6 separate regions of the Homo sapiens genome follow, and regions 1, 3, 4, 5 and 6 are each linked to region 2. The links come from fine-mapping of genetic effects on gene expression. A gene starts in region 2. Each other region holds a variant in brackets. All regions are shown on one strand. Distances are from middle to middle. Region 1 has its middle 11 kb from the start of PIM3. Region 2 holds the start of TUBGCP6 (tubulin gamma complex component 6). Region 3 holds the start of SELENOO (selenoprotein O). Region 4 overlaps PPP6R2 (protein phosphatase 6 regulatory subunit 2). Region 5 overlaps MLC1 (modulator of VRAC current 1). Region 6 overlaps SELENOO (selenoprotein O).

What was found. PIP is the estimated chance that this variant, and not a neighbour inherited with it, causes the effect.
Region 1: its variant is fine-mapped to the expression of TUBGCP6 in anterior cingulate cortex (GTEx, PIP 0.96).
Region 3: its variant is fine-mapped to the expression of TUBGCP6 in whole blood (INTERVAL, PIP 0.99).
Region 4: its variant is fine-mapped to the expression of TUBGCP6 in whole blood (INTERVAL, PIP above 0.99).
Region 5: its variant is fine-mapped to the expression of TUBGCP6 in gastroesophageal junction (GTEx, PIP above 0.99).
Region 6: its variant is fine-mapped to the expression of TUBGCP6 in whole blood (TOPMed, PIP above 0.99).

The regions. Positions count from the first base shown.
Region 1 is chr22:49,946,762-49,951,828 of GRCh38, reverse strand. No RefSeq gene overlaps it. Among named protein-coding and RNA genes, the nearest start is that of PIM3, 11 kb to the left of the region's middle. RefSeq lists enhancers at 315-900, 901-1,488, 4,421-5,008. The variant C/T (reference allele first, on the strand shown) is at 2,962.
Region 2 is chr22:50,242,352-50,247,418 of GRCh38, reverse strand. It overlaps TUBGCP6 (tubulin gamma complex component 6), which reads left to right and starts at 2,396. Exons shown (of 25, transcript NM_020461.4): 1 at 2,396-3,700. The coding sequence starts at 2,960. It overlaps HDAC10 (histone deacetylase 10), which reads left to right. Exons shown (of 20, transcript NM_032019.6): 15 at 453-544; 16 at 684-740; 17 at 1,043-1,121; 18 at 1,327-1,509; 19 at 1,592-1,744; 20 at 1,889-2,236. The coding sequence ends at 1,912. RefSeq lists a silencer at 2,024-2,093 and enhancers at 2,564-2,613, 3,024-3,303, 2,877-3,807.
Region 3 is chr22:50,197,989-50,203,055 of GRCh38, reverse strand. It overlaps TRABD (TraB domain containing), which reads right to left. Exons shown (of 10, transcript NM_001320485.2): 8 at 5,061-5,067; 9 at 4,870-4,981; 10 at 3,461-4,711. The coding sequence ends at 4,537. SELENOO (selenoprotein O) reads right to left here and starts at 2,045. Exons shown (of 9, transcript NM_031454.2): 1 at 1,466-2,045. The coding sequence starts at 2,019. TRABD-AS1 (TRABD antisense RNA 1) reads left to right here and starts at 2,273. Exons shown (of 2, transcript NR_186698.1): 1 at 2,273-2,980; 2 at 3,728-3,968. RefSeq lists an enhancer at 976-1,215 and silencers at 1,576-1,655, 1,786-2,725. The variant A/GA (reference allele first, on the strand shown) is at 2,125.
Region 4 is chr22:50,435,182-50,440,248 of GRCh38, reverse strand. It overlaps PPP6R2 (protein phosphatase 6 regulatory subunit 2), which reads right to left. Exons shown (of 24, transcript NM_001242898.2): 14 at 3,797-3,882; 15 at 3,181-3,261; 16 at 2,646-2,743; 17 at 2,349-2,406; 18 at 1,951-2,075; 19 at 1,487-1,650; 20 at 392-548; 21 at 200-288. Among named protein-coding and RNA genes, the nearest start is that of MIR12114, 30 kb to the right of the region's middle. The variant C/T (reference allele first, on the strand shown) is at 2,165.
Region 5 is chr22:50,074,661-50,079,727 of GRCh38, reverse strand. MLC1 (modulator of VRAC current 1) reads left to right here. Exons shown (of 12, transcript NM_015166.4): 6 at 2,226-2,327; 7 at 2,816-2,887. Among named protein-coding and RNA genes, the nearest start is that of MLC1, 8.2 kb to the left of the region's middle. The variant G/A (reference allele first, on the strand shown) is at 2,117.
Region 6 is chr22:50,217,197-50,222,263 of GRCh38, reverse strand. SELENOO (selenoprotein O) reads right to left here. Exons shown (of 9, transcript NM_031454.2): 9 at 4,648-5,059. The coding sequence ends at 4,895. It overlaps TUBGCP6 (tubulin gamma complex component 6), which reads left to right. Exons shown (of 25, transcript NM_020461.4): 15 at 162-236; 16 at 390-2,013; 17 at 2,249-2,307; 18 at 2,473-2,620; 19 at 2,808-2,976; 20 at 3,055-3,196; 21 at 3,367-3,561; 22 at 3,644-3,776; 23 at 3,862-4,075; 24 at 4,147-4,346; 25 at 4,437-4,570. The coding sequence ends at 4,528. Among named protein-coding and RNA genes, the nearest start is that of SELENOO-AS1, 9.5 kb to the right of the region's middle. RefSeq lists an enhancer at 2,027-2,669. The variant T/C (reference allele first, on the strand shown) is at 2,123.

The sequences.
Region 1 (5,067 bases), 300 kb after region 2:
CCAGGGTTTCAGGGCTCTGGAGGGCACTGGTCAGCTACCCTTGGGCTGAGGTGGGTGGGCACAGCCAGGGGTGGGAGGTATGGAGTTGAGTCTTAGCCCACTCAGGGCCAGGCCCCAGGCCAAATTTGGCCTCCTGATGGGGCCTGGTGACCTCCCTGCCTCTCTCGGTCTCCACTCGATGCCCAGATACCCGTCTCTGCATCCTGGCCTGTGAAGACAGGTGGAGGGGCTCTGCCTGGGCCTTGGCCCTGCCCTCCCCTGGGGCCCAGCCCTGAAATCTTGGCTGCTGGTACCTGCTCCCCGCCCTGGCTGGGCAGGTGGGCCTCGCGCAGGTGGCCCCCGCCCAACCTCCTGCCACAGGGCACTGCTGTGACGCACGCAGCTCCTCCTGGCCGCGGTCCACAGCACACATGACAAGTAGGCAGACAGACGCAGGCTCACACGCAGCACCCGGTCAGGCTGGTTTTACCTGGCCGGCCCTGGGCCTGAGGAGGGGCCCACGCAGCCAGGCCTGCCGGGAAGCTGTCCTCAGCCCCCCAGCCTCCCCGCCCCCGTCCTCAGTCAGCCAGCCTCCCAGCTCCCTTCCCCCATCCTCAGCCCTCCAGATCTCCGCCCCTGGCCTCAGCCTCCCAGACTCCACGCCCCCATCCTCAGTCCCCCACTAGCCTTTCCACCCCCTTCCTCTGCACCACCTTAGCCTCCCAACACCCTTCCTCAGCCCCCACCAGCCTCCCCGCCCCTGTCCCGGTAACCTCCAGCCTCGGTTCCTCATTTGCGAGCCAAACGCTGCCGTCCAGTCTAAGGCCCCTGTGAGGCTGGCACGAGAAGATGTCATAGCTGGGGTGGGGAGTGGGAGGAGGGTGGAGCCCGGTGGGCAGAGACCCCCAAATGTGGCTGAGTGGGCGAATGGACTGTGGAAAGGCAGCCGCCCTCTGCCTGGCCTCACCAGGGGCCCTTCTGGCTATGAGGGGCCCCCAGCTGTGCCCGTCCTGCGCTGCCCTGGACTCCTGAGCCCTCGGCCCACAGGGCCTGGGAGAAGCTGCTGCAAACGCTCCGTGTTGCCGTAGAGTAGGCCTGGCAGGGCGGCTGCCCCTGGACCCCCGGCAGCTCCAGCAGGCGGCTGGGCCCGGTCCTTCTAGTTACTTGCTTAGCTGGGTAGAGAATTCCCTCATCAGCCAGTGTACCCTTGACAACACAGCCCAGCCCAGGCCCCACACCCCCCTGCGCCAACAAACACAGCCCCACTCAGGCCCCCCACCCCCCCACCCCCCTATAACACAGCCCTGCCCAGGCACCACAGCCCCAAACACAGCCCGGCCCAGGCCCCACCCCTACTACCCCCAACAACACAGCCTGGCCCAGGCCCCACCCCCTGCACCGGCTCCCCCATAACACAGCCTGGCCCAGGCCCCATGCCCGCCTCCCCCCGCTATACCCCCCTGTCCCCCACATCCCCCCACCCCTCTGTGCTTCCCCGTGGTTGATGGTGACCCCAATCCCCCTGTGCTACTGCAGGGCGGGAGGGGTGTGCCTGACATGAGGCCCTGCAGTGGCTGTGCCGGGCTTGTCTGGCGGACCTGAGGGCCTGGGTCCCCAGGACGGTGCAGGAGGTCCAGCTCCCTTGGTGTCAGAGCCTCCCCTGAGCCCCTCTAGAGTGGAAAGTCCAACAGCCAGGGCCCTCGGGCAGGTGCGGCTCTCATGGCCTGTGCCCGCCACACCTGAGGCCTCACCTCTGGCCAGCGGGGGGACACTGCGAGACCCACACTGCAGAGGGTCCCAGCCCTGGGCCTGTGCTGCCCCCCAGCATGCTGGACCCGCCTGGGGAGTTTCTGACGGCCCACCCCCCTCTCCAGCCAAGGACTTCTCCCCAGGGCCCCTCCAGTGGGAAGCCTGTGTCCCTGCCGGTTGAGGGGCTCTGCTCCAGGGGCAGGGGCCACTGATCGGCCTTCTGTATAGTGGAGACCCGTGTATAGAGAGACCCGTGAGCGAGGCCCGGATGCGTGGAGCCCGGGCAGCAATGCCGGAAATCTGATCCTCTGCTCGGAGAACCTGGGTCCTGGTGGGTGGAGGGGTGTCAGGGTGGGAAGTGAGGAAACATGGAGGACTGGCTGCGGGGACGCAGGCAGGGGCGATGGTGGAGGAGCAGGGTGGGGGCACAGGCCAAGAGGGCTGGGTAGCAGGGTTGGCGGAGGGTGTCATGTGTGGGGGGCCGTGTGGACGGGGTTCGAGGGGCGTGGAGAGGCCCGGGGGTGGGGCAGCTGGGCACACAATGGGCCCTTGTCCTACAGGCCGCAGCTCCTGGGCGCCCTAAGCAAATACACGCCCTGTTCCCAGCTGCACACCGTGTCCTGGGACGCGGCCGTGGTGTGGGGGCCAGCCGGGAGGGTGGCTGCGAGGCCAGGGCACGCGCCCAGGGGTTCCAGTGCCCATGGGCCTCCATGTGGAGCTGTCCCTGCTGCAGCCTGGGTGTGGCACTCGTGCCCTGGCCACCCCCTTGGCAACCCCACCAAGTCCACCCAAGGAGCCCCGTCAGGGAGAGCGGCTTACTCTGCCCGGCCCTGCTGGCGACTCCTCTCCTGCCCAGCCACGCCCCAGGCCCAGGACAGCCTGCAGGACTCCAGGCCTCCACTCCCACCACCTGAGTGCCTGTCCTGCATCTGCCCCGCCCTTGTCCACAGGCGGGTGCAGCCCTAGACGGGCCTCAGCCCTGGGCTTTCTCAGTACATCTGGGTTGGGGCAGAGGCCAAGCGGGCAGGGCTTGGCTCTGGTCCCTGCCGAGGCCCTTCCTAGGTGCGGAGTCTCTCTGGGGCGCCAGTGGGAGTTGCAGGTGGGCCCTGCTAGGGCTCCTCACCCAGCCCTCTGGCCTGCCCCAGGCCTGAGGCCCTGAGAGGGTGGCGGGGGCCTGCCTTCCCCACCCTGAGGACAGCCCTGGCCAGGGCTGGGGGACAGCGGGGACAGGGA[C/T]GGCCCCTCCCCCAGGGGACCTGGGCAGGTGAGGAGAGGAGCCCTCTTGCTGGGCTGGTGGGATGCTCCGCCAGGCCATCGGGGGTGTGTCAGGGGCAGGGCTGGAGGGCGGGGGGTTTGCTGTGGGTTCCGGCACCACCAGCTGCTCCCCGCTCTCTGCACCTCTGCCCTGGCAGCAGCAGGAGCTGACTGCTCACCCTGAAGGAGTGCCTGAGACACCTTGCCACCTGGTAACAGCATACCCTCAGCATACAGGCTTGACAGGGTCCAGAGAACCCAGGGGAGACAGACACCAAGAAAGACGATGGCAAGAAAGTTCCTGGCCAGCAACACCCCCCACCACGCCAGGCAAACTCTTGCACATACCGTCAAGAGCCATGAGGGCCGGTCAGCCTCTCTGGCAGCTGATGCCGCTGAGCCCACCCTCTAGGGGACCACGGGAACCCCCAGAGGGCAGCTCTGCCCGCCCCAACCCAGACACCCTGAGAAAGCCGACGGCTGAGGCCCGCCCAGGGCTGCGGCTGCCAGTAGGCAGGGGCGGGGCAGATGCAGAACAGACACTCAGGTGGCGGGAGTGGAGGCCTGGGGTCCTGCAGGCTGCCCTGGGTCTGGGACCTGGCTGGGCAGGAGACAGTCACTGGGGGGCTCCGGGCACAGCGCAGCCTATCAGGGAAGCTCTGGGTGGCCAGGCCCCTGGGTGGCTCAGCTGCAGTGGGCCCAGGGCTGGCTTCCATCAGCAGGGCTGCTGTGGCCGAGCAGACAGCCTCATGAAGTGCCCGGTGCCCGGTCCTATAAGGTGGCCACTGAGGGCCCCTGCACCCCTCACCAGGGCGGGTTCCAGAGGGATGGGACAGTGTTCCCAGCTTTGCCTTGAGAGCCGTCTGGACCACCTGCCCCCGTGGCCCCCATGTGTGCCTGGAGCCTGCTTCACAGGCTGTGTGGGGACAGGACAGCAGGCATGGGGGCTGCCCCAGGGTCCACTGGCCCCGGAGGACAGGAGGGAGCCTGTGTCCCTCAGCCAGCATCCCAGAGCCCAGCCACCCTGTCTCCCGGCAGCACTTAGGCCCAGAGCCTGGCCACCCCCAGCATAGGGGGCTGCCCAACCTGGGCACAGGCTCACCCTGCCGGCCTGGATGCCTGGGTCTGCCCCAGCTGGGCTCTGGGTGGGCGGGGAGCAGGCTCACAGCTCTGCCTCCCGAGCCCACCCTGTAGGGGACGGCTCTCACAAGCTCAGCTCCAAGGGCTGGGGGGCCATAGAGGGGCTTTAGGAGGAATGGAGACTGGGCCTGTCGGTGGGCACAGGGCTGAGAGTCCCTCCCTCTTGCTTTGAGGCAGCCAAGGAGGGAAAGAGGCCTGGCCCCCCACCCCACTGGTGCACCAGAAGCCACGAGGGAATGAACCCACACTTGGCTCCCAGTGGACTTGGCGGTGGCCAGACTGGGCCTTGAGGCTGCAGCCCCCGCACTGGGCAGGGATCGGGTCCCAGGCAAGCCTGGACGTGGATCTGGGTCCTCTTTGGAGAGACATCCCTCAGTTGCCAATAGCTGTGGCCAGGAAACTGCAGGACTCCACGGACCTGGGCCCCACCCTGGACAGACACAGCTCTGGGGAGGCAAGGGGCCCCAGGAGGGGCATTTGCATGACAAATGGATTCCCGGGAAGCTGGTGCCTGTGTAATCTGTGGCTGTATGCGAGTGCGCATGTGTGTGTGCCTGCGGGTGTGCCGGACTGGCTCCGAAGGGCCACACAGCCAGCGGCAAATCCCAAGCTCAGGGCCACCCAATACCAAGGGTTCCTGCCTGCGGGGCTTGGGTGGACAGTGGCCTGTGGGTAAAGAAGCCTGCTGGTTATGGGGAGAACCTGGCTCTGGGCCACAAAGTCAGGGTCTGGGCCCCCTTTGGGCCTCAGAATATATTTTCATCTGTGAGACAGGCCGGTCACCTAGCCAGCGGCAAGTCTGATGGGAAGACCTCGTCCTGGCCCAGCTCAGGGCTCCGGGAAGGTCAGCATCCCAGGCCCAGAGACCTCAGTGCCAGCACCCCCAGGTCCCTATGCGCTGGTCCCTTCTAGTTCTGCCCTCCCCTGCGGGCCTGCGGGGGTGTGGAG
Region 2 (5,067 bases):
GCTCATGCCTGTAATAACGGCAGTTTGGGGGGCCAAGGTGGGAGAAACGCTTGAGCCCAGGAGTTCAAGACCAGCCTAGAGAACATATGGAGACCCTGTCTTCACAAAAAATAAAAAAGTCAGCCAAGCGTGGTGGTGTGTGCCTGTAGTTACTTAGGAGGCTGAGGCAGGACGATCGCTTAAGCCCAGGAGTTTGAGGCTGTGGTGAGCTACAATTGCGCCACTGCACGCCAGCCTGGCTACAGAACGAGACCCTGCCTCTCTAAAAAAAAAAAAAAAAATTATAGACGTAAGCATCTTATTTACAGAAATGGAGTGATTGACCTTAGTGTAAGAAGATGTGTGGCTGACAGTAGCCGCAGAGACACACCGAATGAAGGGAACTGTGGATCTGTTTACCTGGCTTGGGAGTTGGTTGGTGCCTCATTCTCCACTGTTTATTCATCCCACAGGTGAACAGTGGTATAGCAGCCACTCCAGCCTCTGCTGCAGCAGCCACCCTGGATGTGGCTGTTCGGAGAGGCCTGTCCCACGGAGCCCAGAGGTAAGCCTCACTTGGCCATCCTGAGCCTCTGACGGCAGGACCTGTGGGCACCCCTATCCTGGCTGGCCAAGCACAGAGAGTTCTGGGAATGGACTCTGGACAACATGAACACCTGTCCTGAGGCCAGCTCTTCTTCCAGGCTGCTGTGCGTGGCCCTGGGACAGCTGGACCGGCCTCCAGACCTCGCCCATGACGGGTAGGACTCTCAGGTCTTGCATATGTCCAGCCATGCATGTGGACGGGCATGTGATGGACGTGTGCCTGGGCCCCAGGGTGACGGGTGGGTGGGGCACTGTGTGGTACTGAATGGAGCCTTCCTCAGCTGGGGTGTGGGAGAAGGGCTGCTGGAGGCAATGCCAGGTGGGTCTCCAGCACAGAGGCTCAGCAGTCACAGCACCCCTGCCCATGGCCCCGTGAATGCTCTTCCACCTCTGCCTCTGCGGTTTGGGCTCAGGAGGGTGAGCAGGGCCTTACACTTATGCACCTGTGTCCTGGAAGGAGGAGTCTGTGGCTGAACATCAGGGGCAAGGAGGCGGCTGCCCTATCCATGTTCCATGTCTCCACGCCACTGCCAGTGGTGAGTGACCATGCCACGCGGCAAGGCAGGTGCTGGGGAGCCCATGGATGTGTACAGCTGCTGTTTGCTGGCATTGTCATGATAGCAGGCCTCTGGTCCTTCCTGTCTCCCTGCTCCTACTCCAGGGGCCCTGAGATTGGGAGGTTGGGAGGCCAGAGCCAGCAGGTGTCCGTAGATGAGGAGCTGGGCTCTGCTGTCCCCACAGATGACCGGTGGTTTCCTGAGCTGCATCTTGGGCTTGGTGCTGCCCCTGGCCTATGGCTTCCAGCCTGACCTGGTGCTGGTGGCGCTGGGGCCTGGCCATGGCCTGCAGGGCCCCCACGCTGCACTCCTGGCTGCAATGCTTCGGGGGCTGGCAGGGGGCCGAGTCCTGGCCCTCCTGGAGGAGGTAAGCTGGGCAGGGTGGAGGTGCTGCGGGGTGGGACGAGGGAAAGGACCAGTGACTGCTTCCGTCTTCGCCCCTGGTCCAGAACTCCACACCCCAGCTAGCAGGGATCCTGGCCCGGGTGCTGAATGGAGAGGCACCTCCTAGCCTAGGCCCTTCCTCTGTGGCCTCCCCAGAGGACGTCCAGGCCCTGATGTACCTGAGAGGGCAGCTGGAGCCTCAGTGGAAGATGTTGCAGGTGAGGCTGACTGCGGAGGCATGGCCCTGCCCTGGGGCCTGGCTCTGCCGCACAGATCGGTGGGGAGGGCAGGGCAGGGGAGTGCCCTGAACCAGCTCCAGCGCCGGAGGCCAACTGCGCGCCTCTTCTCGGCTCCTCCTGTAGTGCCATCCTCACCTGGTGGCTTGAAATCGGCCAAGGTGGGAGCATTTACACCGCAGAAATGACACCGCACGCCAGCGCCCCGCGGCCGCGATCCGGACCCCAAGCCCACGGCTCCCTCGACTCTGGGGCACGGAACCCCGCCCACTCCCAATCCCCGCGCCCCGCCCTCTCCCACCCGTGCTTCCCCCGCTCCACCCCTCACCTCACCTCGCCCCCGCCCCACCCATCGCGCCCCGGCCCGTCCCATCGAGGCCCATGCAACCCACGCTCGGTCCCGTTCCGGCCCCTGCGCCCCGCTGCGCTTCGCTCCCCGCCCTTGCGCCGTTAGTAAACATCGCTCAAACGAAACGCTGGCTCTGCCTCCTTTACTGAGCACGCTCGGCCTCGGTCTCTCACCCGCGGTGCCGGACTCAGGCCGGAAGTATGCCGCGGCCCAGGCCTCACCAACTTCACGCGCTGCCGGCGTTCCCGTGACGTATTTCCGGCGCGCCCGCCCTAGTGCTCTTCACACTGGCGCGGCTGTGACGCGACGGAGGCGGCGAGAGCGGCAGCCGTGGGCACTTTCCACGGGTGAGGCCTGGAGAACGGGTGGACGTGCAGGCCAGAACCCGGGACCCACCCGGCTGAGCCCCCAGACTCTCCGCTGCCCACGACCCTCGGAGTGGCACCCTCTCCTGGCCGTCTCCTCTCGTGGGTCCCGAAGAACGGGTGCAAAGCCGAGTTCGTCCGCTGTACTGCGCGGGCGCGCGTTTCGTTCTTCGGTTTTGCCACGGTTCTGTGACTCCCTAAAGGTTGAGGGCTACTGAATTAGAAGAAACGCCGAGCTGGCTTCTGGTGGGCTGCCGGGCGCCGGGCAGCGTGCTTGGACTGGGGAGGGCAGGGCGTGTTTACTCTGAGTAGAGCAACCGCAAGACCTCCTTTAAAAAATACCAGTTCTGAGCTTCGGCATTGGAGAGGCCGCCTGTCATTCAGCCTCTTCGGACCCTCTCTCACTCCCTGTCTTCCGGAGCGTGAGTGAAGCCCGGGTGAGGTGTTTTCCCACACGCCGGGGGCCCGGAGCTGAGAAGGGGCATGGCCAGCATCACGCAGCTGTTCGACGACCTGTGTGAGGCCCTCCTGCCGGCTGCCAAGACTCACCTGGGCCAGCGCAGTGTGAACCGGAAGAGGGCAAAGCGGAGCCTCAAGAAGGTGGCCTACAATGCTCTTTTCACAAATCTTTTTCAAGATGAGACTCAACAGCTGCAGCCTGACATGTCAAAACTACCAGCGAGAAACAAGATCCTCATGTTGTCCTTTGACTTGAGAGTGGGTGGCCTGGGCCCCAAGGCCGACCGTTTGGAGGAGCTTGTGGAGGAGCTGGAAGCAGCCCCTTGCTGTCCGCTTTTGGAGGTGGGGTCTGTTTTGGACCTCCTGGTTCAGCTGGCAGGGAGTGGTCCCCCTCAAGTTCTGCCGAGAAAACGAGACTACTTCCTTAACAACAAGCATGTGGGGAGAAACGTTCCGTACAGCGGCTATGATTGCGACGACCTGAGTGTGTTTGAGATGGACGTTCAGTCTCTGATCTCCAGAGAAGAGTGTTTGTGTCACAGCATGATCCAGGAAACACTTCAGGTTATGGAGGCTGCTCCAGGCACTGGCCTGCCCACCGTCGGGCTCTTCTCATTTGGTGACCCTTGTGGTGACAGGTTCGAGAGAGACACCCGGGTCTCGCTCTTCGGGGCCCTTGTGCACAGCCGCACTTATGACATGGACGTCCGACTGGGCCTGCCCCCCGTGCCAGACAATGCGGACCTCTCTGGGCTGGCTATTAAGGTAGAATGTTTAGTTTTTCCTCTTTCATCTCTCTCGGGGTTTGGAAAATGCTTCCTGTGACCTTTCTTCTTCTTCTTCTTCTTCTTTTTTTTTTTTTTTTTGAGACAGTGTCTCACTCTGTCACCCAGGCTGGAGTGCAGTGGCGCGATCTTGGCTCACCTTAACCTCCACTTTCTGGGCTCAAGCAATTCTCGTACCTCAGCCTCCCGAGTAGCTGAAATTACAGGCACCTGCCACCACGCCCGGCTTAATTTTTTTTTTTTTTTGAGATGGAGTCTTGCTCTGTTGCCCAGGCTGGAGTGCCGTGGCGCGATCTCGGCTCACTGTAACCGCCGCCTCCCGGGGTCAAGTGATTCTCCTACCTCAGCCTCCCGAGTAGCTGTAGCTGGGATTTAGGTGCATGCCACCACGCCCAGCTAAGTTTTGTATTTTTAGTAGAGATGGGGTTTCACCATGCTGGCTAGGCTGGTCTTGAACTCCTGACCTCTTGATCCGCCTGCCTCGGCCTCCCAAAGTGCTGGGATTACAGGCGTGAGCCACCATGCCCAACTAATTTTTGTATTTTTAGTAGAGGCGGGGTTTCACCATGTTGGCCAGGCTGGTCTCCAACTCCTGACCTCAAATGATCCACCCGTCTCGGCCTCCCAAAGTGCTGGGATTACAGGCATGAGCCACTGTGCCCGGCCCGGTGACCTTCCTTTTATCATGGTAAAAGGGGGGATAGTCTGGTGGCTGCATTGTCCTGAGGTGGGGCTGCTGGAGTGGGCTTACTGGCGGCCACCCTCCTCTGCAGCGACAGTGCTGCCCACCTGCCGGCCAAAGCAACATGCTGCTTTTCATCTTTACCTAATGGGGTATATCGTTAAGCCACCTCTGCCTTCTAGAGCTGCCGTTTAAATTGAAGTTAATTAAAACAAAATAAAATACTCAGTTCCTCAGCCCCACAAGCCACATTTCAAGTGCTCAGTAGCCACGTGTGGCAAAAGTGTTCATGTTCTGTAATTCGTGCAATTGGATATGTTTTTGCTGTCTGTCGCCTGAGGCTTTACCATGGTACGCTGTAGCTCCTCATTTGAGTTTTGTATTTTATTGCTTTATCAGTGTTGCCAAAAGGATACATTGTTACTAGTCGTTCTATTCTTATGCGATAGCTAGATGATTTAGAAACATACATAATGCTACAGCAAATGTCTTGGTGTACAGCAGTTTTGTTTTTTGTTTTTGAGACAAGTCTTGCTCTGTCGCCCAGGCTGGAGTGCAGTGGTGTGGTCTCGGCTCACTGCAACCTCCATCTCCTGGGTTCAAGCGATTCTCCTGCCTCAGCCTCCTAAGTATCTGGGACTACAGGTGTGCGTCACCACACACAG
Region 3 (5,067 bases), 44 kb after region 2:
AAAAACTGTCATTGGTATTTTGATAAGGACTATACTGAATCTCTTCAAAGAGTACCGTTGTCTTTCTAATATTAAGTTATCCAACCCACGAACAAGGGATGTTTCCATTTATTTATGTTTTCTTTATTTTCTTCATGTTTTTCAGTTTTCACTGTTCAAGTCTCTTCCTTCTCACAGCCACTTCAGACGTTAGCCTCAATCTTGGAGAACTGGTGAGGCCAGGGACCCCAGGACACGTGTGGGGATGTCAGGCAGGGCCTGAGTAAAGGTCAAAGGACTCCTTAATTTTTAGGAGAAAATATATTCTAGCAGCTCTCAGGTCTGAAAGCAGTGAGTTAATACTCAAGTCTTCAAACATAAAAAGTGTCTTCCAGCGACAGATTACTCTCATAAAAAAAATTGTCTTTTTAACTTTAAAATATCACCAAAAATGAAAACATAAAGTTTAAGATGATCGCCAAAAAGAAAAACAAAAATTAAAAAAAAAAAATGCTCACAGGACAAGCAGGCCCCAGGCTGAGCAGCATTTCCACCACGTTCCAAGGGTCAGAAACGCTCCAGTGGGCGGCCGGTGCTGTCAACTCTAAGCAGGTCGCTGGGGGTGGGGAGGGAGAGCCAGAGCCAGGTTGCCCTCAGACACAGAACAGAACGGATTTGGAGACGGGGGAGTGAGGAAGACCCTCAGTCTGAGGAGCTTGCTTGGGAGATGGAGCCCCGGGGAAGGGATGCTGAGGGACCGAGGGGCATTTCAGGTGCTGGAGGGGGAGGTGATGAGAGCACAGGGAGGGGCCGGATGAGATGCGGGTTTAGCATTTCTCTGAACATAAAATGTACACTTTCCTAGTCATTCACAAAAGCAGTAAAGAATATGGAGTAAGTACATTGTTTAGTAGAAAAGAGCAGAACAGACCCAAGCGCTGTCTATACACAGGAGGCAGGTGGCGCGTGCACGGCTCCCCGGTGGGCCTGGCGGCATCTGGACCCAGATCCTGCCTTATTAGACCACCTGTGTGCCCCCCCACAGAAATCTAAACGATGCCCACCTCACTTCGGGGTTAAAAAGGGCTGCCCGCAGGGAAGTCAGGGCCAGGCCTCCGTGAAGTCAGTCGCAGAGCGAGGCTGCTGGACGAAGCGGCCCGCCCCACGAGCGATCGGAGGAAGGCTGGGGACCTGCGGGGTTAGGGTTAGGGTTAGCCTAACCTCTCATCCCGGCTCCCGCCCCTGGGTTTGGAGCCCCAGCGAACGTCGGTAAACATGAGCGGCGTCCCTGGTGGAGCTGACTCCAAGGTCCTCGGCGGGTTGATAAGCACAGGGCGCGGGCGGCTGCCAGCACCGCGCTCCCGCGGGTGCAGGGGAGGCCCCACTTGGCAGTAGCCGCCGGACGCCCCCAACACCGCGCCGGGCGGAGGGAAGGGGCGCCCCGGCGGGGAGGACCCACCCGCGCCCCTCGCCCGCCCCGGCCCACCTGGAGAAGGGCGTGGGCCCGGCGCCCTTGAGCTGCAGCTCCCAGCGCTCGCCGGTCGCCGTGCACACCTCGCCCAGGTACATGGCGGCGCCGTCGCCCAGCTGCCCGGCGAACTGGCCGAATTGGTGGCCGCAGTAGCAGTGCGCGGCGGGCTCGGCGCCCGGCAGGAGCGCGTTGCCGCTGAAGAACAGCGCGGCCTCGGCCTCGGCCTCGCGCGCGGGCGGCGCGCCCAGGCCCAGCAACGCCAGCGCGGGCTCTGACAGCGCCACGAGGCGCGGCTGCCGCAGCGGGGTGGGCTGCACGCGGGTGAAGCAGGCCCCGGGCACGGGCCGCGGCGCGGACGGGGCGCCCTCGGGACCGGGCGGCGGCGCCTCCACGGGCAGGGCGCGCAGGGCGCGGTTGTCGAAGCGCAGCCCCGCCAGCCAGCGAGGCGCGGGCTCCATGGCGGCGCCCGACAACGTAGAGCGGGGCGCCGGCGACGGGGAACAGCGACCGAGGGGCAAGAGTCGGGCAGCCGCGAGCGAAGCCCCGAGCGCTGCCCTGTATACGGCCATCCGCGGCCCCGCTCCCGCCGGAAGCCAGCCTGCCCCGCCCGGAAGCCCCGCCCCGCGCGTCCCGCAACCCAATCGCCAGTGGGCGAGAGTGGGGCGGGTGGGGGG[A/GA]GGGGTCGCGGTGTCTGGCCGGGCTCTAATTGGCTGCCTCGTCCGTCTATCCGCATCTCCCGGCCGGAGGGTCGGAGGCGTCCGGGGTGGCTGTCGGCGTCACGGGGCGCGCGCTGATGCGAACGGGGTGACAGATGGGAACGCCTCCGAGACCGCCAGCGACGACCCCGCTCGGGCAGCCCCGGATTTCCTCGGCTGCACCGGCGCCGGCAGCGGGGACCGAGGCCCGCGTCCGTTCGGGTCGGGCCGGGGCTTAGCCCCGCGCCCCACGGGCGGCCGGGACCCCACCCGGACCCCGCCGCGGTTCTGGGCCGCCGGAGCCTCGCGCCGCCTCTCGGGGACCTTGTCCCCTGGCCTCCGGCCTCTCGGGCCCCTCGCCTGCCGTCTAGGAGGGAAGGGGCCTTGGATCTGTGCCCCGCCCATGGAACAGCGCCCGGGCTCGGAGAGGCCCCGCGAGGCCGCAGGCGCAGACCCTCCCGGAGGGCTGGGCGGGCACCGGGGTCTTCGGCTGGCTTGAGGGACCCGACCCCTGGGGGAGGAATTTGGGGTCTGTGTGTCCGAATGAACGCGGGGGTTCAGATGAGTCTGTGGTGCCCCCGCTTTCCATCTCCTCCGGCCCCGGCCCCAGAGGACTGTCTGAGAGGCCGGTGGCCGCGGATCCTGGACGCGCCTCCCTCCTGCCTGTGGTTTCCCTTTATTCCGGCAGCGGCGCGAGCCCACCCTTCACATACAGGAGCTACATCCAGAAGCTTCTCCTGGGGCCACAGCGTGGGCTTCCGAGACTCTGCGTGACCCCAGCTCTGCCCCTTTGGGGCTGCGGGTGAAGCCCTCAGGACCCTCCGCGTGCGTTGGGCAGGTAACTGGATGAGGGATAATGTGGTGAGGTCCCCGTGCCCAACCCTCCTCTGCAGCCCACAGCAACCGTTCCCTCTTCAGCAGCCCCCTCCCCCCGGCCGCTCTGGGCGCCCGTTCCCAGCATCCTCCTTGGCAGGTGTTACCCCTCCCCATTCCCCAGGCCCTGGGCCCTCCTGATCTGTCTCCTCGACCCCCTGGGGCCCCAGTCTGGCTCAGTCTGGTCCACACTCTGGAATCTGGTGGGACTGGGTATGGAGGGTCTTGAGTGTCAGCAGGCCACCTGCGTCCCACCTGGTGGGTGAGAAGGGTCCCACAGGTCAGCATGGAGGGACCCGACTCTGTCTCTTCTGCTGGAAACCAGGCAGGTTCCTTCCCCCAGGGCCCCGGCAGGGCCACGAGTACCCGCTGCACTGGAGCACGGGGGAAGAGGCAGGGATCCTTCATTACCTGAACCCCATGTTCACACGTCACAAAACAGGAGTTTCCAAAATTAGAATTTATTTCAGTTTCTAAGGAATGAATCCCCGAGTGTGGCAGGAAGGACACAGCCGGCTCCTGACGCACACCTGATTTGATTCAACACCGAGTCGGCACAGACACAACCAGAGATGGCCTGGGTCCAGGCTGGGGCTGCACGGGCTGTGTCCTGGACAGCCAGGAGGGAGGCCCCGCACACAGACGGCCGCCGGGCAGGGGGCCTGAGCGGGACAGGCCTGGCCACAGCCCATGTCCTTGGCCTTCCACATAGGTGCACACATTGTCTGCCCAGAGAGGGCCAAGATGCCCCAGGCACCCCTTCGCTCCGGGGGCTCAGGACACAGGCTCCCAGCTGAGGCCACGCCTGGACCCAGAGCTGATGTTTGGCTGCACGCGAGCCCACTCGGGACAGACCCAAGAACACGAATTCTCTCCCTTTGGATTTAAGGCTGGTGTTTTTTGACATTTACTTCAGTTTTTCTCTCTGAAATTAAAATTACCTGAGTAAAAGATTTTAAGACATTAAAAAAGCCAAAAACACAGAATCCCTGCAGGCAGACGGTGCCAGGGAGGTGGCGGCCAGGGCCAGGATGCCAGGGGCACGGTGGGGTCGGCTGGAGCTCCAGGGCTGGGCCTTTCCCAGTCTCGCCTGCCCTGGAGCCCCCAGGAGCCGCCCCTGGGCCGACGCTCCTGTGGCCGGAGCACAGGAAGGCACAGTGAGGTAGGGACAGTGGCCATTGTCCCCCGCCTGCCACCAGGGCTGAGAGGGCAGCGCACGCCTCGGCCCCTCCTATAAGCCCCTGCCCCCTCGGAGCTGGGTGTCTTGTCCAGAAGCTGGGGAACGGCCCCTGCAGTGTGGGAGGGGAGGGGCTGCCGGGAGGCCTGAGCTCAGACAGTTAAATAATCCTTTATTTGGGTGGGCTGGGGGAGGGGTGACTGGCCCAGGAGGGCAGGCGAGGCCGGGCCCAGACCCCCATGGGGGGTGGCAGGGGCCTCGGGCGGGCTAGGATGCACCTGGCACCCAGAAGTGCCGCGGGGGCACTGGCTCCTCAGGGGCCCGAGCGGGCGGGGAGCAGTCTCCTACTTGTGCCGGGCCTCGGTCACCCTCTGCAGGCAGTACTGCGCGGCGGGCAGCGACAGGACCAGGCTCGCGGTGCGGCGGCCCATCCAGTACAGGCTGTAGCCCAGCAGGCCGAAGAAGGCGGCCTTCACGGCCAACCGAGACACTCTGCCGGAGACGGACGGCGGGGGCACGCTGTGGGAGGGAGGGGGCGCTGGGCCTGGCTGGGGGTGGGCTCCCCATACCCCAGCCCCCATGCCTGGGTCACTGCCGCATGTGGTTGGCCTCCAGGGCGCTCAGCCTCCACCTGGGGGCTTGTGGGGTGGGGCTTGCAGGGAGGGGCGGGCACTCACGTCATGATCTCCTGGATGTTGAGGTCGGTGCTCCAGTTCTTCTCGATGCCAGGCACGTGGCCCATGCCCACGACGCCCACGACCACGGAGGGGACGCACTTCCTGGGCTCGGCTGTGGGGAAGGACAAGGGGTCAGTACCTGCTCGGGCCTCAGCCTCACAGGGGGTCCCACGCCTGCGGGCGGCCGTCACCGTCAGA
Region 4 (5,067 bases), 190 kb before region 2:
CTGCCTCCCCTCTGGGGGCCTCCCCATCTACACGTGGCTGCTCCAGTCCCATTGCTGTATCAAACCCCAATGTCACCAGAGACGTAGCAGCATGCGAGGCCCCGGCCACCTCCTCCCACTGCCCCCAAGGAGGGGGGCCAGCTGGCCTCAGGCCTTAAACTGGGCAAGGCTGGGTGCCGCCTGCACTGCTCCTACTCACAGGCTTTCTCAGGGCCTTGGCTCCGGCTGCCCTCAGCATGGCTGCATTCTGTGTCCACCGGAGAGCTGCACCTGGGCCCTGACTCGGAGCTGCATACAAGGACGAGGACAGGATCAGTCCTGGGGGACAGGTGCCTCCTGGCCCTGACAGGCACTTCCTGGCACAGCCCCCTCCTGCCAGCGCATTTGTTACCAGCAGAAAGGTTGGAAGTCAGTGAACTTGGCCCAGCCTTTCTCCTCTGGAGCTGAGGTGCCAGCTGCCCACACACTGGAACCCACGTCCCTCACCACTCCTGGGGCTGTGGGCGTTGAGTTCGCTGGCTCATCAAACACTGCCGTCCACATGGCGCCTGCTGGGGGAGAGACACAGTGGTCAGGCGTGGGCAGGCCTGGGGTGCTGCAGGCAAAGGGGAGGCAGCGCCCCTGCCCCGGGAGCCCCTCAGAGGTTGACAGGAAGATGGGGCTGCTCCAGGAGGGAGGCCCAGGCAGTGCCCGTCAGCCCCTCAAGGAGCAACAGGGGACAGCTCGAGGGTCCTGACAAGCTGCCGACACCCATGGGGCGTGTGACCTGGGGCTCAGTCAGGTGCCTGAGGGCCCCCAGGCCTCCAGCAGGACTGACACTGACAGTGTGGAGGTGATGCCACTGCCCTGTCCTACCCAGGACCGCAACCCACAGAGCCGGCAGCTCACCGAGCACCACTGGCCCCTTCCTGGCCTCGAGGATGGGGTGTCTTCCTCCTATCTGGGATGTTCCTGCTTCCCCAGGGTGTCACCCTTGCTCTGTCAGCGAAGAGCTCAGCCCCTCCTAACAGAGATCTCTGCCCCCGCCACCAAAGTCCTGAGTGCCTCAGTGCTGCCCCCAGGGCAGGGTAAGGAGAGGGGTCTCATCAGCCATGCGGCCTGTGAGGTGGACTGGCTCCTGCCATAGATGTCGGCCATGAAGGTGGCGGCCGGCCTGTGCTGCTGTGCTGGGGAGGGCGTCAGGCCTGTGCCTGACTGTGTGGGGGCTGGACGGACGATGGAGACTAGGTGGACACCACCCACCAGCCTTGGCAACGTGGCTGAGTGACCACAACTGCAAGGCAGGGGCAGGAGGCCACCTTGCGCTGGGCACAGCGCAGCACAGACCCCTACTCAGGACGGCTGGGAAATAGCTGGGGATTCAGGCTCCGGGCCACAGTGAGCCCCAAATGCCTCAGCTCCAAATGAAGCCTCCACAACACCCAGGCCGGGGTACCATGTCCTGTCCCCGATACCCACACTCCCAGCCCCTGGCGCCCAGCACCACCTTCTGAGTCACCCTCCACAGGGGGCGCTTCCTTCTTCCCGGGGGCCGGTGGGGCACCTGCCCCAGGTGCATCTCTGTGTGCTTCCAAGCTCGCCTTCCCATCCTGGCCTCCACGCTCTGGGCCATTCTTTGAGCAACTCTCTGAAGCATGGGGGGCTCCAAACCTGGGGGAGATTCAGAGTCAGATGTCTGGTGGCCCAGGACGGACGCCTAACATGGAGGGTCAGTGGCGGCCCCAGGCTCGGGGCTGAGGGTGAGCACAGATCGTCTCGAGAGAGGAGCACGAGACGCTCCAGGCCTCAGCTCTGGGCTCCTTAGGGTCACCCGCTGCATTGGGCCCCAGAGCTGGCAGGACAGGTGTGGCTGCTCTGCAAGCCAGCTAACGAACCACAGGGCGTCTGACAGGTGTTCTGGGGGCTGAACCTCCTCGGCAGAGGCTTTGTGGGGATGGGCAGGCCCCGCACCTGGGTCTGGCCATCACCCGGGCAGCACAGCGAGTGTCACTGTCCTCCCAGATGTCCTCGTCCTCATCATCATCAAAGGGCTGGATGCGGTCACTGCAGCAGGCCTCAAACAGAGCTGCGCTGGGCTGCAGAGTAAAACGCCAAGGTGAGTTTCCAGAGGGTCTGGGGGAGACAGGAGCCGCTCTCCCCATAGAGCTCCCAGAGGGGCTTAGTT[C/T]GGGATGTGGGAGCCCCGGGCTGGAGGGGAGGACGGGGAGGGGCAAGGAAAGCGACTGTTCCGAGCTCCACAGAGGGGCCTCTCCCAGCCCCACCGCACAGGCCCATGACAGACCGAGCCATGGGCATGGCCTGAGCTGCCTGGGAAAAGGGTGGCGGCACCCCACACAGCCCGGCTTGCTCACACTGTCCTCGTCAGCGTCGATGTTGAAGTTGATCTCTGCGATCCTGTCAAACGGGGCACTGCAAGAGCAAGGGGGATGGCTTCAGCGTTCCTCCAGGCCCACTGCTCATCTGGGGCCTCAGTGCTCCTCCCCCGGTGCTCATCGGGGGCCTCAGCACCCTCACACAACTGGGAACACCTGCTGTCTCCCGGGGACATCAGACGGCACTCCCGGCAAGACCTCAGGGAGCTGCCTCCACGGGAGCTCAGCAGCAGGGAGAGCCGCGCCTCGTGCAGAGTGCGCTCCAAGTAGACTCACTTGATGTTGTCGTCCTGGTCGGCAAACTCCTCATCATTGAAGCCAAACTGATCCACGAAGTTGGCTGTCATCTGCTGGATCTGGTAGTCAGAGAAGGCCTGGGAGGGAGGGAGGGAGGGAGGGACGGACAGACACCGGTCATGGAGGAGGCATCAGGCCTGGAGGCTGCTCTTTGGGAACCACAATCTCTCTAGTTGTTCGGGAGCTTCTCCTCCAGCACAAGTGGGCAGTAAACTCTGTTCAGGGCTCACGATTCTACCAAAACTCAGGCTGCGCGCTCGCTGCGGTCACATCTGAGATACGCCCCATATTCTCTGACTTTCGAGTCCATCTGCCGTGTCCTCAGTGCTCTCATCAAGGTGGAGTGACTTTGGGGTTCTCCCTTCAGACCCACCCCGCCCCATACGTGCTCGGAGACGAGCCCCCGCTCCCCTTTGCTAGTGAGATGCCATCAGACTCGTCTGGAGGACCAAGCGCAGCGCACACAGGTGCCGGGAAGGGCCCGGCAGGGTGCAGGTGCCGGCCACGCCCTCACCTGCTGAAGGGACAGCTCGTTAGGGAAAGCACCCTCAATGTCCTCGTCCTCACTTGAGGAGTGAAGGTGGTGAGTGCTCACCTAAAACACAGGCCAGATGGGGTGGGCGTGTGAGCCAGCCCAGCGCCCCAGACCCCACCCAGCCCAGCGCCCAGGACCATGCCCAGCCCAGGGCTCCCAGACCCCACCCAGCACATCACTCATCAGATCTCTGGGCCCAGGAGGCCGTGCTGTGTAAGGAGGTGCCTAGGTGAGGCCAAGGCCCCGTGACAGCCCGACCTCCATGTGCAGGGGGCAGGTTGTGGGTCTCAGGCAAAAGGAGCCCTCTGCCAACAAGCTACAGCTCCTGGAGTGGGAGGAAAGGGACCTGAGGCCAACACCGGCTCTGCACAGAGGTCCTCAGAGACCCAGCCCTGGGTGTGGCACAGGACGGGGTCTCTGTTACGGACATCAGCCCGGAGGACACACTATGCAGGGGCACCGCATAGTCAAGAGGAGCAGGCAGGCGTGCGGCCCTTGTGCCTCCCTTGGCCTCTGCCTCAGGGCAAAGGCAGGAGCGTCTGACGGCGTCCCAGCACCGTGCGTGCACCGAGGGGGCAGCCCCGAGCCTCCTCACCAGGTCCACAGTGTTCCTGCGGTTCGTCTCCGTCAGCGTCTCCTCCACGAAGCTCTCCCAGCGGCCACGGCAGTCCGCAGGGAGCCCTGCAAGGGAAGTGCTGCCTGGTGAGCCCTGGGAGACCCCGTGCAGATGGTGCAGGGCACCCGGGGGCTCCGGCAGGTGCATCCTGGGTCCGGGAGGATGGGGCGCTGCTACTGTGGTCAGCCCGTCTGAGGGCCTGAAGCAGGGGCTTTGCCGGATGAGAAAGAGGCAGCATAGCCGCGTGTCCGGAGGGGCCTGGGGCCACAGTGAGATTGAGGTGCAGCACCTGTGGGCAGGGTGGTGGGCACTTCTGCCCCTACCGAAACCCCAGTGGGCATCTGAGTTCCAAGTCTGTTGGGTGGAAGCCCATTCTGAGGAACTCCCAGAAACGCAGAAGCCGTGGAACAGAATCTGAGAAAGCAGCCAGCTTCCTTCCCCCCACCTCACAGGCCCAAACTCAGCAGCAGCCTACAGGCCTGGGCGCGTGTCCTGCCTGTTTTTCCGGGGAGGTCAGAGTCCTGGAAGGATTCACAATCTGGAGATCGTATGGAATGATCCAACAGCTTCCTGCTTGCCCCTCGCCTCCTTAAACTGCCCCTGCCCTGGGGAGCTGTCCCTGGCCTCCACCTCCACCCATCTACTTTGCCCTCCAGGATGTGGGGAAGCTCCTCCTGCCCTGCTTTTATTATTTGTGATGGCAGCCGGCAGGCCTGACCTCGCCAGGGGCTAATGGAGCCCAACCCAGGAGTCCCCTCACTATGGTCCTGGGGTGCGGGGAGGACTATCCAGAGCTTCCTCACCTTACACGGGTATAGGGAGGAGAGGCCACAGCTGGGCCCGCCTCTGCCACACATGTGCTGTGCCTGCGCCCACCTAACCCACTGCGTTCTTAAGAAACAGGCTGCAACCTGCTCCCCTGAGACTTGTGCTACGAAATCTCACACCTGAGTGAGAATGAGACTCTCCAATCACCTGAGTGCAGAGCACACAGCCAGGACAGCCTAGCCAGGCAGGGCTCCCTGAGCTGCAAGGAGCCCGGTGGCGCTAACGGCTTCTGAGTGCCAGCTCCGGAGTCACCAACTACCCCGGGAGGGACTGTCTCTTGTGCCACACGCTGACGCCTGGCAGGGTCTCCACAGAAGTCCGCCCAATAGAACTGACACATGAGACCCAGGCCCCCACGAGGAGAGATGTGATGTGTGAAGTGAGAGGACAGAGGTGGCCATGGGTCTCTCACTGTCAGTGCA
Region 5 (5,067 bases), 170 kb after region 2:
GGACAGATTTATTGGTAAACAATGTCTTTTCCAACAGTCCTTAAAAATTAACAGTGACATAATACTATGTTTCATCCAATCTGTGTAAGACAGTTGTTCAATGCACCTCTAAACAAAAATGTGAAATTGTAGGGGGCAGAGGTTGTGGGAGCCGAGATGGCGCCACTGCACTCCAGCCTGGAAGACAGAGCAAGACTCCGTCTCAAAAAAAAAAAAAAAAAAAAAAAGACAAAAATCCCAAAGGAAACCAGGACCTCATCCGAGATACTGCAAGGAGGGCCTCCTGCTTTGTGTGACATGTGGAATGCACTTGATGATTGGGGAAAGCTGGAGGAGGCTTGAGTATGTCCTGGCCACTCTCGTTGGGCAGGAAAAATGAGCAGACACAGGAGGACCCAGTGGGAACACCCACACTGCCTTTTTGTTTTGTTTTGTTTTGTTTTTGAGAAGGAATCTCGCTCTGTCGCCCAGGCTGGAGTGTAGTGGCGCCATCTCGGCTCACTGCAACCTCTACCTCCCGGGTTCAAGCAATTCTCCTGCCTCAGCCTCTGGAGTAGCTGGGATTACAGGCGTGTGCCACCACACTCGGCTAATTTTTGTATTTTTAGTACAGACAAGGTTTCACCATGTTGGCCAGGCTGGCCTTGTACTCCTGACCTCAGGTGATCCATCCACCTCGGCCTCCCATAGTGCTGGGATTACAGGTATGAGCCACCGCGCCCGGCCTGTGACGCTTCTTTATTAAGACGGAGAGCAGATGGGGTGTGGTCCCTGGGTCAGTGGCTTGTATCTGAACTGCTCAGAGGCAAGTTACTCACTGTAGCTGTCGGCTGGCCCTGGGAGGAGCTGTCTCTTCAGGATCAGGAAGGAGCCAGAGGTCAAAGCACCAGAAATACAGAAAATAAAAGACAAGGTTAATGTCACACTTTTCTGAATTTTAGAGTTCTCCTTATGCTTTTGTCTTTTTGATCTGTCATTTTTTTTTTTTTTTGAGACAGTCTCGCTCTGTCGCCCAGACTGGAGTGCAGTGGCTCCATCTCGGCTCACGGCAACCTCCGCCTCTCGGGTTCAAGCAATTCTCCTGTCTCAGCCTCCCGAGTAGCTGGGATTACAGGCGTGCGCCACCGTACCCAGCTGATTTTTGTATTTTTAGTAGACAAGGGGTTTCACCATGTTGGTCAGGCTGGTCTGGAACTCCTGACCTCAGGTGATCCAACCGCCTCGGTCCCCCAAAGTGCTGGGATCACAGGCGTGAGCCGCCTCCCTCTGCCTGATCTGTCAGTTTCTAAGAAAAGTGTTTCAAGTCCTTCCCCACCTCTACTGATATATCTACATCTTCCTGTGGCTCTGTTATGACATCATATATTTCGAGGCTCTGTTTTTAGTTGAATGTGGTTCTGCACTCTTTCTTTTTTAAATGTATTTTAAAAATTGTCAGGCCGGGCGCGGTGGCTCACGCCTGTAATCTCAGCACTTTGGGAGGCCGAGGTGGGCGGAACACCTGAGGTCAGGAGTTCGAGACCAGCCTGACCAACATGGAGAAACCCCTCTCTACTAAAAATACAAAATTAGCCGGGCGTGCTGGTAGGTGCCTGTAACCCCAGCTTACTCGGGAGGCTGAGGCAGGACAATCATTTGAACCCAGGAGGCAGAGGTTGCGGTGAGCCGAGATTGCGCCATTTGCTCTCCAGCCTGGGCAACAAGAGCGAACCTCCGTCTCAAAAAAAAAAAAAAAATTGTCAGACAGCTACACTGACTTTTTAAAATGTATGCTTCTATGAATATTAACACACATATAAATTCATGTCACTGCCAATACGGTCAGGGCCTGCAGTCGTTTCATTACCCTCCAAAAAACCTTATGTTCTCAGTGCTTGACAATCATGCATGAAGCTACTCTAAACATTCCGTGAAGGCTTTTGTGGGAACAAGGAGCGTTCAGAATGGGGTCGGTAGACCAGAGCCCAAGGCCAAATCCAGCCCTGGCCTGTGTTTGTACAGCCTTTGCACTAAGAATGGTTTTAAAAACTAAAAGACCCCAAAGGCCCATGTGAGGCAGGAGAGTGTGCAGCCCACAGTGCCTCACAGCTGGCCCTGGATGGGAAAAGTGGGGACC[G/A]TGGCTGAGAGTCCTGCGCAGCCTGCCCGTGAGGTGGTCCGGTGGACGCTGAAGCGCGGTGGCGTGAGAAAGGCGGGCCCGGTGCTGAAGCGTGTGTGCCCCTTGGCAGATCAACTTCAACCTCATCCTGCTGCTCCTGCTGGAGCTGCTCATGGCGGCCACGGTGATCATCGCTGCACGGTCCAGCGAGGAGGACTGCAAGAAAAAGAAGGTGGGTGCAGCTTCTGACCCCGCAGGGCAGGGGGTGCAGAGGCATCACCCCAGGGTGAGCGAGGTGGGTCTCAGCGTCACCCTCGGAGGGCCGATCTGGGCTGCTCCAGGGCATTCCCATGAGACCCCTCTCTCCTGGGTCTCAGAAACCCCGGCCAGGAGGGGCTCTGGAGCTGGGTGAGGGGTTGGCGGCCGCTGGCTACAGGGAGGTGAAGACAGATGCTGTACCCTCCCCTCCCCCTAAGCCTGACTCAGTCCAGTGCTCGTCCCCAGGGGATCACCAGGAGACACCACATCTGCTAATTTTCATATGCAAGGACAATGTGTGTGAACATTTCCTCAAGCCCAAAGATCCACGGGCGCCTCCAAGGCGGTCTCGCATCTACACGGCAGGCTGACCTGACCCACTGCCCACGGCGGCCGGATGCCAGCGGCAGTGCTGAGTCCCTGTGCCCGTGCACCCGGGGTGACAGTTCTGTTTCTTCGTAGGGCTCCATGTCTGACAGCGCCAACATTCTGGACGAAGTGCCATTTCCTGCTCGGGTCCTGAAATCTTACTCAGTAAGAAAACTTCCCTTCTTTCTCTTTTCTCTCATACTCTGTCGGGGGTGACTGAGGCTGGATTAAACGTCACGTTTCGATTCCGAGTTGGCGAAGAGTTGGCTGTCTACACCGCATGGCGGCGTGCGCCTCATCTGTGGAGACTCTAGTCTGTTATTGGTATCATTGGTAATAACCTTCCTTATCGCGAAAGGTGCTGCTGGTGTCCTGTAATTTTTAGGGGGAGTTTGTTACTGCCGTAGGTGAGTTGACACTGTTGTCCCCGAGGAATTTTTTTTTTTTTTTTGAGACGGAGTCTCACTCCATCAGCCAGGCTGGGGTGCAGTGGTGCTATCTCAGCTCACCGCCACCTCTGCCTCCCAGGTTCAAGTAATTCTCCTGCCTCAGCCTCCTGAGGAGCTGGGACTACAGGCACATGCCACCACGCCCGGCTAATTATTTTATTTTTAGTAGAGGCAGGGTTTCGGCATGTTGGCCAGGCTGGTCTCGAACTCCTGACCTCAAGTGATCCACCCACCCAGGCCTTCCAAAGTGCTGGGATTACAGGTGTGAGCCACCGCACCTGGCCTCTTTCTCCTTCTTACTTTCAACTTTTCTTGCCTTGTACTTTGGTATAATTGTTATAAGCAGCACGTAACTGTATTTTGTTCTTTATCTTGTCATTCTCTCTCCCTAGCTTTTTGAATGTAGCCCATTTCCTCTGAGAGTTATTACTGATAAATTTCTACTTATTTTTACCATCTTTTGAGTTTTCCATTTTCCCTGATTTTGCCTTTTTCCCTCCTTCCCTGCCTTCTTTTGAATTGGCAGAGGCTCCGTCCTTCCTTTTCCCTCTAATTTTGGATGGGAAATTTTTCAGTATTCTTTTGGGGGTTGCCCTTCATATTCTAATACGCTCCTTGATAAACAGACCATGCGGGGTCTGTCCCCCTTCCCTCCGCCTTGGCCTTGTTGTCTAGCTTGTGACATTTAGTGACATTTTGCCTTTTTACTCCAACAATGGGACAGCCTCCTGTGTGCTTGACTGTGTCTGTGTGTGTTTCCCAGTGCCTTCACTTCCCCTTATTTAGCATTTCAGTCCTCTCTTAGGTTCCATTTCCGTTCTGCTTCTTTTTTTTTTTTCCTTTTTTTTTGAGATGGAGTCCTGCTGTTGCCCAGGCTAGAGTGCAGTGGTGTGATCTTGGTTCACTGCAACCTCTGCCTCCTGAGTTGAAGCGATTCTCCCGCCTCAGCCTCCCGAGTAGCTGGGATTACAGGTGCCCGCCACCACGCCCAGCTAATTTTTGTTATTTTTAGTAGAGACGGGGTTTACCATGTTGGCCAGGCTGTACTCAAACTCCTGACCTCACGATCCGTCTGCCTCGGCCTCCCAAAGTGCTAGGATTACAGGCATGAGCCGCCGTGCCTGGCTGGGAATTCAGCTTTATTTGTGCATCTGGAGTTTTGTGCCTTCTGGACGCAAGGCCTGGCTGCCCAGGTCCCTTCCGGCCCCCAAGCCCTTGCTGGCCCACTCCTTATGCCTGGCTTTCCTGCTGGCCACAGCTCTGTGTTTGCGACTCACAGAGATCCTTCACGGGAGCAGGTTTTCGGGCGTGTGTTTCTTCCCCAGCCCTCCCTGAGTCTGGCGGTGCTGGTTGCGGCCCCTCCCTGAGTCTGGCGGTGCTGGTTGCGGCCCCTCCCTGAGTCTGGCGGTGCTGGTTGCGGCCCCTCCCTGAGTCTGGCGGTGCTGGTTGCGGCCCTGATGGTGCCGGGCAGATGAGTCCACAACCAGGGCTTAGGCCAGCAGGGTTCTTGGCTTTGTCCAGGAAAGAATTCAAGGGCGAGCTGGAGGTGACAGACAGCAGCTTTGTTTGCAGTGGCAGTATAGCAGGGCTCTCCAACCGGCAGGTGCCTCGAGCAGCAGCTCAGAGACAGCTCTGCCTCCTATTTATACCCACTTTTAAGTATATGCTAATTAAGGGGCAGATTATGCAGAAATTTCTAGAAAAGGGGTGCTAACGTCCAGGTGGTTGGATCATTGCCACGGAAAGGGGTGGTGACGTCCAGTGTTGCCGTGGCAATGGCAAACCCACATGGCACGGGTGGGTGTGTCCTATGGGAAGCTACTTCTGCCCCAGGCCTGTTTTCCCGAGTCCCTTCGATGGGGTCCAGGGTCTGAGCACCGCCGCCTGCCACACTGT
Region 6 (5,067 bases), 25 kb after region 2:
GGAGTACTTTTTGCAGGCCCAGCGTCCCACTGGAGCCCAGCACAAGCCTTGTCTGGTTCAGTGCACATGGCTGCCATGGGCGGTAGGGGCTGTGGCTTTGTGTGGGGTAGGGCTGTGCTTGACTCCGGCTTGGCCAGTCACCCCTCTGGCTTGAATTTCAGGAGATGCTGAAAGCAGTGTCTGAGGCTCACCAGCCCCAGGAGCCGCCAGACGTCCTCTTGAGCGTGCACCCCCAGGTAAGCGGCAGAGTGGAACCCAGGGTGCCCTATGGTTTTCCCATAGCCCTCGGCACCTGGTGTTGGTCATGGCTGCAGAGCTGAACTTGGGGGACAGTTCGAGGGCTGGGGGGTCCTGAGACCAGACTGGGTCTGATGTCACCTGTGTTTCAGGTCACGTCTCCGGGCCCTGAGCACCCAGAGGGAGGCCAAGGCTGTGATTCTGGGTCTGCAGAGCAACACTCGCCTGCCTGGGATGGCTGGAACAGGCCAGGCCTGCTGACCCCACAGCCCCTTAAGCCTCTAGCAGTGGGGGCTGGTGGCAGGGGGCTGCAGCAGGCGGAGGGGGCCAGACCCTTCTCTGACAGCCTCAGCATTGGAGACTTCCTACCTGTGGGCCCAGGGGCTGAGCCGTCCGTGCAGACTGGCATGGTCCCTCTCCTGGAGGTGGCGCTGCAGACCATTAACTTGGACCTGCCCCCCTCAGCTCCTGGGGAGGCACCCGCAGCAGCCAGCACTCAGCCCTCCAGGCCACAGGAGTACGACTTTAGTACTGTCCTGAGGCCAGCTGTGGCCACCTCACCTGCACCAGGGCCCCTGCAGGCTGCAGAGTGCAGCTTGGGCAGCTCAGGGCTACAGCTGTGGGAGGACAGTTGTGGGAAGATGGATGCCTGTGGCTCCGCCTCGCGGGAGACTCTGCTCCCCTCACACCCACCCAGGCGTGCTGCTCTGGAGGAGGGGAGCAGCCAGCCCACAGAGCGGCTCTTTGGGCAGGTGTCAGGGGGTGGTCTTCCCACAGGGGACTACGCTTCTGAAATAGCTCCCACCCGGCCACGGTGGAACACCCACGGGCACGTGTCTGACGCCAGCATCAGGGTCGGGGAGAATGTGTCAGATGTGGCTCCCACCCAGCCACGGTGGAACACCCACGGACACGTATCCAATGCCAGCATCAGCTTAGGGGAGTCTGTGTCAGATGTGGCTCCCACTCGGCCACGGTGGAACATCCATGGACATGTGTCCAACGCCAGCATCAGGGTCGGGGAGAATGTGTCAGATGTGGCTCCCACCAGGCCACGGTGGAATACCCACGGGCACGTGTCCAACGCCAGCATCAGGGTTGGGGAGAACGTGTCGGACGTGGCTCCCACCCGGCCACGGTGGAACACCCATGGACACGTGTCCGATGCCAGCATCAGCTTGGGGGAGTCTGTGTCAGACATGGCTCCCGCCCGGCCACGGTGGAACACCCATGGACACGTGTCTGATGCCAGCATCAGCTTGGGGGAGTCTGTGTCAGACATGGCTCCCACCCGGCCACGGTGGAACACCCACGGACATGTGTCTGACACCAGCATCAGGGTTGGGGAGAACGTATCGGACGTGGCTCCCATCCGGTCACGGTGCAACACCCATGGACACGTGTCCGACGCCAGCATCAGCTTGGGGGAGCCTGTGTCGGATGTGGTTTCCACCCGGCCACGGTGGAACACCCATGTACCCATCCCTCCGCCCCACATGGTGCTGGGGGCTCTCTCACCAGAAGCTGAGCCCAACACACCCAGGCCCCAACAGAGCCCCCCTGGCCACACGTCCCAGTCAGCGCTCAGCCTGGGAGCACAGAGCACTGTGCTGGACTGTGGGCCACGGCTGCCTGTAGAAGTGGGGCCATCTCTGTCCTCCCCCAGCTCGGGCTGCGGGGAGGGGAGCATCAGCGTGGGGGAGAACGTGTCAGACGTGGCTCCCACCCAACCATGGTGGCCCAACACCCCGGGAGACAGTGTCTCTGAAGAACTAGGTCAGAGTAGGGTGGCTGGTGGTCAGGAGTGGGACTGTGGGACGCACAGAGCCTGGGAGGTAGGCGGGCAGTGGGGTTGGTGGCATGTGAAGTTCCCCTCAGGCCTCCT[T/C]GTCAGCCAGGACCTGGGCTGCTGTGGGGGACATGGGAGGGGCTGCTTGAGCCAGGGCCGGCTCGGCTCTGTACCCGCCACAGGCACTCGGCCCTGATGCCCTCGTGTCCACTTGTGTCCACACAGGCCCTGGGAGGAGCGGGGACACTGAGGACCTCTCTCCAAATTGGCCTCTCAACTCACAGGTTAGGTGGATGCAGCCTGGGGGTCCCACAGCAGGCAGGGAGGGCTCTGTCCCTCTAGGTTGTCACGCGGGTGGGTCCCACATGCGATTTTCCTTTTTTTGGCACAAGCTGGTTGTGGGGACAGCGTGCAGTGGGGAGGTGGTTCTGAGGCTGGTGTTTTGTTAGGAAGACACAGCTGCCCAGAGCAGCCCAGGCCGTGGTGAGGAGGCGGAGGCATCGGCGGCGGAGGCTCAGGGTGGGGAGCAGGCCTACCTGGCAGGCCTGGCAGGGCAGTACCACTTGGAGCGGTACCCGGACAGTTACGAGTCCATGTGTGAGTGCAGCAGTTGCTGTTGGCAGGGAGCCCTGGGCTGGCTGGTTCCCAGCACGTGCTCCACCTCCTGTGGGTTGGGGCGGAGCCCTGGGCTAGCCAGTTCCCAGCACGTGCTCCATCTCCTGTGGATGGGGGCGGAGCCCTGGGCTGGCCGGTTCCCAGCACGTGCGTGCTCCATCTCCCGCAGCCGAGCCGCCCATTGCTCATCTTTTGCGCCCCGTGCTTCCCCGGGCCTTCGCCTTCCCCGTGGACCCCCAGGTCCAGTCTGCCGCTGATGAGACTGCTGTGCAGCTGAGCGAGTTGCTGACGCTGCCCGTGCTCATGAAGCGCTCCATCACGGCACCGCTGGCCGCCCAGTGAGTGCCCCTGCCCCTGCGCCAGTCTGCCCACCCAGCCCGTCCTGGCCCGCCCTGACTCCAGCTCCCTCCTGCCAGCATCTCCTTGGTGAACAAGGCCGCTGTCGACTACTTCTTCGTGGAGCTGCACCTGGAGGCGCACTATGAGGCACTGCGGCACTTCCTGCTGATGGAGGACGGCGAGTTCGCCCAGTCCCTCAGCGACCTGCTCTTTGAGAAGGTGGCCTCCGGACACGGGGTGGGGCCAGTGGTAGAGGGGAGGCCGTGGGAAAAGAGAGACTGGCTGCACGCCCACAGCCCCCTGCTGCTCTGGCACAGCCCCATGGGGTGCCGGCGAGTGCCAGGCATGTGCTTGGGACTCCTGGGGACGGTGGTCCCTTTTCTGCCTAGCTTGGAGCTGGGCAAACGCCCGGAGAGCTGCTCAACCCGCTGGTGCTGAACTCTGTGCTGAGCAAGGCCCTGCAGTGCAGCCTGCATGGGGACACCCCGCACGCCTCCAACCTCTCCCTCGCTCTCAAGTACCTGCCCGAGGTGTTTGCCCCCAACGCCCCGGATGTGCTGAGCTGCCTGGAGCTCAGGTACAAGGTCAGCAGCAGCCCTGGCCGCGGGGGATGGGACAGGGGCCTGCCTGCCTGTGGGATGCCTGCTGAGCCACGCCTCCTGGCAGGTGGACTGGCCTCTCAACATTGTCATCACCGAGGGCTGCGTGAGCAAGTACAGCGGCGTCTTCTCCTTCCTGCTGCAGCTGAAGCTCATGATGTGGGCGCTCAAGGACGTCTGCTTCCACCTCAAGCGCACAGGTGAGGCCCCGCTGGAGCCCGGCGCCCCGCACCCCTGGCTGGAGGCTGCGCTCACCTCTGCCCTCTGCCTTCTGCCCTCCGCCAGCCCTGCTGAGCCACATGGCCGGCTCTGTGCAGTTCCGTCAGCTGCAGCTGTTCAAGCACGAGATGCAGCATTTCGTGAAGGTCATCCAGGGCTACATCGCCAACCAGATCCTGCACGTCACCTGGTGCGAGTTCAGGGCCAGGTTGGCCACCGTGGGCGACCTGGAGGAGATCCAGCGTGCGCACGCAGAGTACCTGCACAAGGCCGTCTTCAGGTGAGGCCTGGGCAGCGGCTGCGTCCCTGTGGTCACGGCTCAGCCCACCCAGCAGCACTGCTTCCCCCCAGGGGCCTGCTCACGGAGAAGGCGGCGCCCGTCATGAACGTCATCCACAGCATCTTCAGCCTCGTGCTCAAGTTCCGCAGCCAGCTCATCTCCCAGGCCTGGGGGCCCCCTGGGGGCCCGCGGGGTGCAGAGCACCCCAACTTTGCACTCATGCAGCAGTCCTACAACACCTTCAAGTACTACTCCCACTTTCTCTTCAAAGGTGAGGCCCACCCTGGCTGGGAGGGCTGCGGGGGGGCCAGGGCGGGGCTCACACTGTGGGCAAAAGCCTGAGCTGCTCGCTGGTCCCCAGTGGTGACCAAGCTGGTGAACCGCGGCTACCAGCCCCACCTGGAGGACTTTCTGCTGCGCATCAACTTCAACAACTACTACCAGGACGCCTGAGGCTGCTCTGCGGGGGACGTGCACAATAAAGGTGTTCTCGGACCCTGTCTGCAGCTCTCTCTCCTGGGTGGGGGCTGAGGACAGGGCAGGGTGGGGGAACAATGACCACAGAGACAGACTCGAGGGAGTTGCTGGTTTATTTAGGAGCCTGGGTCCAGCCCCCAGGGACCAGGCTGCACTGCTGAGCCGGCCTCAGACAGAGACGGGTCAGGTCCTGACTGGATGTCTCTGCCATCATGGAAAGACGGGTGTGCATGGGCCAGGGCAGAATCCCCCAGTGTATAGGGCAGCCTGGCATCATCTTGGCCACTCAGCAGCACATGGGGGCCTCGGGAGACTCCAGGGGTGTGGAGCGTGCCGAGGCCGTTACGAAGATCATGTCACGCACAGTTCTGCTGCCCAGAGCGGGGGCTTACTGCTGTAGGAGCGCTGCCTGCCGTCCGCCCCGTCGGCTTCCGTGGCCTCGGCGTCTGTGGCGGCCCCCGCCTCGCAGTGGTAAGGGGTCTCCAGTAGTTTCAGCACCCGCCGCACCTGGAGGA